2 separate regions of the Homo sapiens genome follow, and region 2 is linked to region 1. Evidence: fine-mapped expression QTL. A gene starts in region 1. The other region holds a variant in brackets. All regions are shown on one strand. Distances are from middle to middle.

The links.
Region 2: its variant is fine-mapped to the expression of GJB1 in stomach (GTEx, PIP 0.90).

The regions. Positions count from the first base shown.
Region 1 is chrX:71,220,269-71,225,268 of GRCh38, forward strand. It overlaps GJB1 (gap junction protein beta 1), which reads left to right and starts at 2,956. Exons shown (of 2, transcript NM_000166.6): 1 at 2,956-3,067; 2 at 3,424-5,000. The coding sequence starts at 3,440. The coding sequence ends at 4,291.
Region 2 is chrX:71,177,469-71,182,985 of GRCh38, forward strand. No RefSeq gene overlaps it. Among named protein-coding and RNA genes, the nearest start is that of NLGN3, 35 kb to the left of the region's middle. RefSeq lists enhancers at 4,465-4,514, 4,571-4,865, 4,915-5,004. The variant C/G (reference allele first, on the strand shown) is at 3,319.

The DNA of each region.
Region 1 (5,000 bases):
ATCCACCTGCCTCTGCCTCCCAAAGTGCTGGGATTACAGGCGTGAGCCACTGTGCCCGGCCTTTTTTTTTTTTTTTAAATATAATAGAGACGAGGGTCATGCTATGTTGCCCATGATGGTCTCAAACTCCTGGGCTCAAGCAATCCACCCACCTCAGCCTCCCAAAGTGCTGGGATTCGAGGCGTGAGCCACTGCGCCTGGCCTAGGTTTTGTTTGTTTGTTTGTTTGTTTGTTTGTTTGTTTGTTCGTCTTTTCCGAGACGGAGTCTCACTCTTTCCCCCAGGCTGGAGTGCAGTGACGGGATCTCCACTCACTGCAACCTCTGCCTCCTGGGTTCTAACAATTCTCCTGCCTCAGCCTCCTGAGTAGCTGGGATTACGGGTGCCCGCCACCACACCCAGCTAATTTTTGTATTTTTAGTACAGACGGGGTTTCACCATGTTGGTCAGGCTGGACTTGAACCCCTCAGTGATCTGCCCGCCTAAGCCTCCCAAAGTGCTGGGATTGCAGGCGTGAGCCCCTGCACCCAGCCGGTTATTCTTAATAATTCTCTGGCCACCTGTTCTAGAGTGTAACACATCTCACCACCTGAAGCATTTCTTTTCTTTCTTTGTTTCTTTCCTTTTTTTTTTTTTTTTTTTTTTTTTGAGACAGAGTCTCGCTCTGTCACCAGGCTGGAGTGCAGTGGCGCAATCTCGGCTCACTGCAATCTCCGCCTCCTGGGTTCAAGCAATTCTCCTGCCTCAGCCTCCCAAGTAGCTGGGATTACAGGTGCATGCCACTACACCCAGCTAATTTTTGTAATTTTAGTAGAGACGAGGTTTCACCATGTTGGCCTCGATCTGCTGACCTCGTGATCCGCCCGCCTTGGCCTCCCAAAGTGTTGGGATTACAGGCGTGAGCCACCTTGCCCAGCCCCTGAAGCATTTCTTTATGGCTAACTGTGGTGCCTAGTGCAGCAGCTTTGCATATAGAATCCCAGGCTTGGGAGAAAGGGCACCCATAGCCCTGCTTCCCCATGCTGGTTGGCACATGACATGAACTCACTAAGGCTTTTTATTTATTTATTTATTTATTTATTTATTTATTTATTTATTTAGCTAAATGAAGAAACCTTGTTCTGAGAAGTAACCTATGTCCTGTGGACTGTCCTTCTTTCCCCAGATTCTTTCATCCCATTTCCCAACTTTTGCAGTTGCTGTTACCCCACCCCTTTCCTCTACAGCATAGAGGACCACCCAGGGCTGAATATGAGGCTTCTTCCACAACCAGTTGCTCTGCTGTGGAGCATGCACTGGGGTCAGGAAATGACTCCAGGGATCACTGCACCTCCTATGGTCCAGGGCTGCATGTCCTCCTCACATTCAGTTTCCTGCTGCTAGTATGATCTCCTTGCAACTTAATGGCAGAAGTGGCAAGAGGTGGGAGAAGCCTTCTTAGCCTGCCTAAGGGATAGAGGAGAATTTCCTCCCTAGAGCAACTGGCAAGCTCCTGAAACCACGAGGTTGCAATATGCACTTGGGGTTGGGGGCTGGGCAGCAATGGGGTCTCAGACAGACCCTATAGGTCAACAACAGCATTGGGGACTGCTCAAGGTGGCTCACACCTGTAAACCCAACACTTTGGGAGGCAAAAGTGGGAAGATCGCTTGAGCCCAGGAGTTCAAGACCAGCCTGGGCAACATAGCAAGCCCCCCATCTCTACAAAAAAAAAAAATTGAAAAATTAGCTGGGCATGGTGACACATACCTGTGGTCCCAGCTAATTGAGAGGCTGAGGTGGGAGGATCGCTGGAGCCCAGGAGGTCAAGGCTGCAGTGAGCAGTGATTGTGCCACTGCACTCTAGCCTTAGTGATATAGCCAGACCTTGTCCCCACCCTCTAATAAAAAACAACCCACAGCATTAGGGAGAAAAAGGAGAGATCTTGGGTTTGACAGACCATTTATTCCCCCAAAGCAACTTTGTTATCTTTTCCTGAGAAGATTTTTTTTTTTTTTTGAGACGGAGTCTTGCTCTGTCGCCCGGACTGGAGTGCAGTGGTGCAATCTTGGCCCACTGCAACCTCTGCCTCCTGGGTTCCAGTGATTCTCCCACCCAGCAGCTGGGATTACAGGCATGCGCCACCACACACGGCTAATTTTTTGTATTTTTAGTAGAGATGGGGTTTCACATTGTTAGCCAGGATGGTCTTGATCTCCTGACCTCAAGTGATCTGCCCACTTCAGCCTCCTAAAGTGCTGGGATTACAGGCGTGAGCAACGGCGCCCAGCCTTTTTTTTTTTTTTTTTTTAATGGTTAGCCTTTGCTTTCTACAGACACTATCTGCAGAAGCACAGGGAGCCTGCTGTAGAAAGACTTCTGTCTCAGATACATTGTTTCATCCTACCTATCCTACCGCTTTGGAACGGTGTGACCTTGAGGAGTTACTTATCTGAGCTTCAGCTTCTTCATCTGGAAAATGGGATAACAGGCTTCCTAAATGGGTCGAAAGAAAAAATGTATGGAACAACGCTCAGCACAGTTTGTGGCTTCATAAATGAGCTCTCTTTCCTGTCCTCTTTCCTCTCCATATTCCGGAGAGGATCTAAGCCTCAGGGAAAATCCTGGTGACCTTAAGCTTCTGACGGGGCCATGGGGGAGGGCCTCAGCCCAGAGCCTCTGGGTCCCCTGGGGTCCCCTCTTCACATCCACCTGCCTGTGTTTTATCTCCCTCCCCCCGCCCCCCCGTGGCCATTCTTCTGGTGGGGCTATGGGGCGGGTGCGGCGATGGACCGGGCGGGCACAGAACAGGTGGGTGCAGGCTGGGTGTCCGGCGCTGGGACACAAGTGCTCTGTGTGTAGGGTGGGCGGAAGTCAGGGCGTTTGATCTGAATTCTAAAGGGCGTTGTTCAGAGCCCCACAAAGGTCTCATTGTGCAGACACTGGGTATAAAGCAGCATATGACTCCCCAGCACCGGGCGGTGATGAATTGGGACGCAGGCGCGGAGCCCAGGGACCACTCCCCCTGCACAGACATGAGACCATAGGGGACCTGTCTGGGTGGCCTCAGGGATAGGCGCTCCCCAAGGTAAGAGGGCTTTGTTGAGTTTGCCCCAGGTCTGGAGTTAAGGAGCTAGGGGACAGGGAGCCATAGGGGATGGCTGATATCGGAACAAGATGGGCTTGGCAAAGAAAGGGGCTGGCGGGAAAAGAATGTTGGATGAAAGCGAAGAAGGGGGATGGGGCTCAGGGAGGTCAAGTCAAGTGAGTGAGGAGGAGGAGAAGCTGGCAAGGGAGATGGGGTGACGAGGAAAGACATGACCATCCTTCCTTTCCTGCTACTGGCTCTTGGAAGAGTTGAGGGGGGGTGCGCAGGCAGTGCTATGGCGCCCGACTTTCCACCCCAGCTTTCTGACAGCTTGCTTCATGGCTGGTGTTTTGCAGGTGTGAATGAGGCAGGATGAACTGGACAGGTTTGTACACCTTGCTCAGTGGCGTGAACCGGCATTCTACTGCCATTGGCCGAGTATGGCTCTCGGTCATCTTCATCTTCAGAATCATGGTGCTGGTGGTGGCTGCAGAGAGTGTGTGGGGTGATGAGAAATCTTCCTTCATCTGCAACACACTCCAGCCTGGCTGCAACAGCGTTTGCTATGACCAATTCTTCCCCATCTCCCATGTGCGGCTGTGGTCCCTGCAGCTCATCCTAGTTTCCACCCCAGCTCTCCTCGTGGCCATGCACGTGGCTCACCAGCAACACATAGAGAAGAAAATGCTACGGCTTGAGGGCCATGGGGACCCCCTACACCTGGAGGAGGTGAAGAGGCACAAGGTCCACATCTCAGGGACACTGTGGTGGACCTATGTCATCAGCGTGGTGTTCCGGCTGTTGTTTGAGGCCGTCTTCATGTATGTCTTTTATCTGCTCTACCCTGGCTATGCCATGGTGCGGCTGGTCAAGTGCGACGTCTACCCCTGCCCCAACACAGTGGACTGCTTCGTGTCCCGCCCCACCGAGAAAACCGTCTTCACCGTCTTCATGCTAGCTGCCTCTGGCATCTGCATCATCCTCAATGTGGCCGAGGTGGTGTACCTCATCATCCGGGCCTGTGCCCGCCGAGCCCAGCGCCGCTCCAATCCACCTTCCCGCAAGGGCTCGGGCTTCGGCCACCGCCTCTCACCTGAATACAAGCAGAATGAGATCAACAAGCTGCTGAGTGAGCAGGATGGCTCCCTGAAAGACATACTGCGCCGCAGCCCTGGCACCGGGGCTGGGCTGGCTGAAAAGAGCGACCGCTGCTCGGCCTGCTGATGCCACATACCAGGCAACCTCCCATCCCACCCCCGACCCTGCCCTGGGCGAGCCCCTCCTTCTCCCCTGCCGGTGCACAGGCCTCTGCCTGCTGGGGATTACTCGATCAAAACCTTCCTTCCCTGGCTACTTCCCTTCCTCCCGGGGCCTTCCTTTTGAGGAGCTGGAGGGGTGGGGAGCTAGAGGCCACCTATGCCAGTGCTCAAGGTTACTGGGAGTGTGGGCTGCCCTTGTTGCCTGCACCCTTCCCTCTTCCCTCTCCCTCTCTCTGGGACCACTGGGTACAAGAGATGGGATGCTCCGACAGCGTCTCCAATTATGAAACTAATCTTAACCCTGTGCTGTCAGATACCCTGTTTCTGGAGTCACATCAGTGAGGAGGGATGTGGGTAAGAGGAGCAGAGGGCAGGGGTGCTGTGGACATGTGGGTGGAGAAGGGAGGGTGGCCAGCACTAGTAAAGGAGGAATAGTGCTTGCTGGCCACAAGGAAAAGGAGGAGGTGTCTGGGGTGAGGGAGTTAGGGAGAGAGAAGCAGGCAGATAAGTTGGAGCAGGGGTTGGTCAAGGCCACCTCTGCCTCTAGTCCCCAAGGCCTCTCTCTGCCTGAAATGTTACACATTAAACAGGATTTTACAGTAAATGAAGAGGTGGCTTGTGTGTTTGTCAAGTTCTTTCTCCTGCAACCTCTGACCTCCCCCAGGATGAGCTGG
Region 2 (5,517 bases), 43 kb before region 1:
CTGTGAATACACCCAACTGTCCTGTCTTCACCCCACATTTTTCCTTCTTATCTACAAGGACATCTCACGCCAGGGCATTCTTCAACAAAACAAGACTGCATTCTGAAATTCTTTTTGGAAACAGGGAGTGGGGAGGAGAAGGGAGTGGGAACGAAAGGAGAGGAGTTTGACCTTTAGATCTTCTCCTCCCTTCTCCCCAGCCCCCAGGATGAGCCCTGTGGCTTCAGTCTCCAAGAAGGAATTTTCCAACCAACAGCTCAGATGTAGAAAGTTGAAATAACTGGACTATAGGGTCAGAAAACCTGCATTCAGATCCATCTCTGCCTCTTCCTAGCTGGATGACCTTGGTTGAAGGGTTTAACATCTCCGAGTCTGTTTGCTCATCTGTAAAATAGGGACAGGACGATTACACCTACCTCACAGAGTTGTTGTAAGGATTAAATGAGAAGATGTATGTGAATGTGCTTCGGAAACTGTAAGCATTATACAAATGTCAGATATTATTATTATGACTGAGTGCCTACTGTGTTCCTCAGTATAGGCTATAAAAAGATAAATACGACATAGTCTTTGCCTTCAGGGAGCTCACAGTTCTGTAGCAGAGATATGTTCACAAATAGCCGTGGTATAAAGTATAACAGGGCAAAATGGCCCAAGTTATTACAGTAATTCAGAAGAGGGAGCAGGCCCTTCAGACTGGGGGGAACCAAAAGAGAGGCTTCAAAGAGTTTGATCTGTACCCTGACAAATGGGATGGATCTGACAGATGGACACGGCTGAGAGAGGACAGCATTCCAGGTGGAGGAGTCTAGGGATGGGTATTTATGGAACGCGTCTGCGGTGCTGGAAGCAGGCCTGTTTGATTGTAAGAAGTAATGAGGCTGGTCAGCCACATCACAACTTTTTTAGACACGGTCATTTTCAGCATGCCCAGGGTAGAGCATTCAGTCCTTCAGAAGGAGGACTAGAATTTAAGCAGAGCCTCTGAGGTCTCATGTCTGTTGTTCAACTGACCTCCTTGGAGAAAAACAACTCTTCTGGAGGGTGGTGGCATCCAGAAAGGTTCTAGGAAAATCACCTTTTTCCTTTTCTGAAGCTGAAAAATAGGTCTCTGGGAAGAACAGGGACTAATGCCACATTTAAATCCTAAAAATCGGCCAGGCGCGGTGGCTCACACCTGTAATCCCAGCACTTTGGGAGGCCAAGGCGGGTGGATCACCTGAGGTCAGGAGTTCTAGACCAGCCTGGCCAACGTGGTGAAACCCTGTCTCTACTAAAAATACAAAAATTAGCTGGGTGTGGTGGCGGGCACCTGTAATCCTAGCTACTCAGGAGGCTGAGGCAGGAGAATCGCTTGAACCCAGAGGCAGAGGTTGCAGTGAGCCAAGATCACGCCATTGCACTCCAGCCTGGGCCACAAGAGTGAAACTCCTTCTCAAAAAATAATAATAATAAATCCTAAAAATCTTCAGCTGGAAGTGGCTCTGGCTTAAGAATTCAAGAGTTTTCATTGAAGGAGGGTCATCTGCCATATCTGAAAGGCTTCATATTCTTCAATTTCATGTGGGGAGTGGGGAGGGAGAGGAAAATAGTTCAAGGGCTCTCAAGGTCCATTTCCTGATGGTTTCTTCGGACCTATGGTTATGATTTGGTGCCACCTGGTGTCCGAGACAGAATATAGCGCCCTTGTGTAGAAGCCGCCTTCCCCCTCCTTCCTAAATCAAGAGCATTGAACTGCTTCCCAGCATCTAGGGATGGGGCTATCTTCCTTCCAGTAGGATAGAACCAGCCATTCAGAGGCACTCTGGGGTCTGTGTAAATGGAAAAGAAGAGGAGGAAAGGGAAAGTCCTGAACCAGGCCTCATAGCCATCCTTTCCTATGTTACCAAAGTTTATATTTTTCCCTAGAGTACCCCTGGGGTAAATAGAGTATCTTCCCCCAGAGTACTTTCCCCAGAATACTACAGGACTGGGTTTGCCATGTCCCTCTCTCTCTACCCCCACACATTCTCTTATGATGACTTGAGTATCCACAAAAGATTATTACAACACCTCTCTCTCAGACGTGACCAAGAGAAATTGTCATGATTGTCTAGGGTGGCCAAGGGAGGAGCAGTAAATGAGTCTTGTTCCCCCTGAGCTCAAGTTTAAATGTTGTTTCTTCCTGAGTGGGCTATACTATTCTAGAACGACTGAGCTAGAATAGCTCCTCCATAAGAAACCTGTTTATTGAAACTACACTTAGAATTCCTACAGCCCCTCTTAAAGGTTAGGGGAGGGAGAAACGGTGCCTCAGATAACAGAACAGATGGTGGCCCCCTTTTCCCTCAAGCCCCATTCCTAAATAGATTCAAAAGGATCAATAAAACTGACACTGAGGCTGGGTGCGGTGGCTCACACCTGTAATCCCAGCACTTTGGGAGGCCGAGGTGGGCGGATCACTTGAGGTCAGGAATTTTTGAGACCAGCCTGGCCAACGTGGTGAAAACCCGTCTCTACAAAAAATACAAAAATTAGCTAGGTATGGTGGCGGGTGCCTGTAATCCCAGCTACTCTGGAGGGTAAGGCAGGAGAATCACTTCAACCTGGGAGGCGGAGGTTGCAGTGAACCGAGACCGCGCCACTGCACTCCAGCCTGGGCGACAGCCTGAGACTCTGTCTCAACAACAACAACAACAAACAAACAAACAAAAACTGGAGTGGTCTGATGATAACTTATAAAGGAGTATTAGTAGAGCATAGTTTGAGGGGATGGCTTGAACTGGGATGGCCAGAGCTGAGCAAGGACAAGACTGAGCTAATGAAAAGGTTAATCCTTCTGCTACTACTTCCATTCCTAGGTACCCTTAAAGTCTGAGTTTCTGTTGTGCCCACTCAGGCTCTTCTGGGTGCTGGAGAATCCTGGACCAGCTCTCAGTTTGGATTGTCAATTGCAGGTGAGGGGCATGAAAATGGCAGAAGTGCAAAAGAAAGAAACCATCAGCTAGATTTGAATGCTTCGATTCATGGATCACTACTTTTATTTGCCTCAGTTCTTCCCTGGTCCCTATATTACAGGGCTGCCAGAGTGCATGCCCTCTAACTGTACCGGCTAAGAAGTAAACAAATTCCTTTTTATCTTTTAGTTAAGACAAGGCTGCAATTTTTGAAAAGTAACATTTGCTAGGACACTAATGAATAAGAAAGTAACCAAAAGAGGTAACAAGAGAACACACAAACAAATGGGCTTACAGTGTTCACATTTCTTATCTTGTATCAACTAAAGTTTAACCATAGTTGGCCGGGCCTGATGGCTCACACCTGTAATCCCAGGACTTA[C/G]GGAGGCCGAGATGGGCAGATCACCTAAGGTCAGGAGTTTGAGACTAGCCTGGCCAACATGGTGAAACCCTGCCTCTACTAAATAAAAATAAAATAAACCCCATCTCTACTAAAATACAAAAATTAGCTGGGCATGGTGGCACACTCCTGTAACCCCAGCTACTCGGGAGGCTGAGGCTGGAGAATAGCTTGAACCCGGGAGGTGGAAGTTGCACTGAGCTGAACCACTGCACTCCAGCCTGGATGACAGAGCGAAATTCCATCTCAAAATAAATAAATAAATAAATAAATAAATAAATAAATAAATAAATAAAGCTTAACCACAGAGGAGGCCAGGCGCAGTGACTCACGCCTGTAATCCAAGCACTTTGGGAAGCTGAGGCAGGTGGATCACCTGAGGTCAGGAGTTCGAGACCAGCTGGGCCAACATGGTGAAACCCCATCTCCACTAAAAGTACAAAAAATTAGCCAGATGTGGTGGCAGGTACCTGTAATCCCAGCTACTTCGAAGGCTGAGGCAGCAGAATCACTTGAACCCGGGAGGCGGAGGTTGCAAGGAGCCGAGATCGTGCCATTGCACTCCAGCCTGGGCAACAAGAGTGAAAACTCCATCTCAAAAAAAAAAAAAAAAATCATAGAGGAAGTTATCTGGTACAATGTATAGGGCACCTAAGCAAATCCTTTTTTGCCAGGGTAACCTTTCCCAACTCATGAGAGGTCAGAGGTTAGACAAAGCTGCGTAGACCCGAACCTGAAGGTTGGTGCAAAAGTAATGGCGGTTTTTGCAATTACCTTTAACGGCAAAAACCGCCATTACTTTTGCACCAGCCTAACAGATCTAGTGAGTTTCACAGTCCCTGGTGGAATCGGTTTCCCATACTGCTCTCAGTGCAGAGACCCTAGTGGGTGCCTTCTGTCCTGGCACGTGCTGCTTTCCGGTTCTGCGGTTACCCTGGCCCTTGGGTTTCCCCCACCCTCCTCCCATCCTTTTCAGGCTCCCGGAAAGAGAAGACCCCCAGTGAAACTCCACCCCTTCACATAGTTTTGATGACTTAGGACATGTGTTCGGACAAATACAAAAAAATGTGCTTACGATTCTAATTAGAAAAAGACACTTAGAATTGAGACTGCTTCTGAAAATCTGATCCTGTGCTGGCAGTTCCTGTTGTTCTCAGCTAGTATTTCGTTTTAGTCCCCTAAAGTGGCCATGTGACCTTGATAGCAAACGCCATCTTTCTGCGGAGCCCGCCTGAGCTGCGGCAAGCTGCTCTGACGGCTCGCTAGCAATCTGCCTTTTCCGATTTCAAAATCTTTAGACCGCCCACCAAAACCCTTTTTCCGGTCGGAGAGGCCCGGCAGGCTCTCAGGTCATTTGCGGAGCAAACGTGATTGACACGATCTGCGTCTAATGAATGTTCGTCTGCTTCCCAGCTCGGATTACTAGTTCCGCTCCCTTTCCCAGTTTGTTTTTGATGACTCATCCCTCAAATTCTTCACACACTCGCCTGATTCCCGCCCCTCCCGTCCTCTCTCTCCTCGCTCCCACTCGACGCCCACCCCCCACCTCCGCCGCCTCGCCCTAGGGAAGTGGATTTGGTGAATCCTATCGAGGATCGTTTTTTTACAGTGTATTTTGAACATATAGAAGCAAAAAGCACAATTTCCGTACAGGAAAGAGGAGGTTCATTTCCTTATAAGGAGCTTAACCCCTCACTGTTCTTTGAGCTTTTTCTCGTCCACAAGATCGGGGTGGGAGCAGGGGCAGGAGAAACGACAGCGGGGCTTTTGCCACTCAATTTCCAGTTCAATTCCAGAACCCCCGCAGCTCTGAGTCCCTAGCAAAGGTCAGCTGCCTTGCCCCAACAGCCGGCCCCACTGAGGGAGGAGTCCGGGGGAGTACAGTCAGGGTTGAAAGTTTACAAACATTTCTCTGGGTCTCGGGCATCTGCAGTGGGCACCTGCGGTGGGCACGTATGACAGTTTTGCCGGGGGCTGCAAATGCAAAATTGCAGCCCTAAAGAGGAAACAGACCTTCAGTCGTTAATAGGAGGAGGGGGAAAGGAAGGGGGAGTAAGAAAAGTAGGGAGCTGAGACTGAACTAACAAGCTCTTCTGGACCCAGACCCCTGAAATAGGCGAATGAATGGACTTCCACCTGCACAAGAAATCCTAGCTTTCCTGGATAGGGTCAAATGAAGCC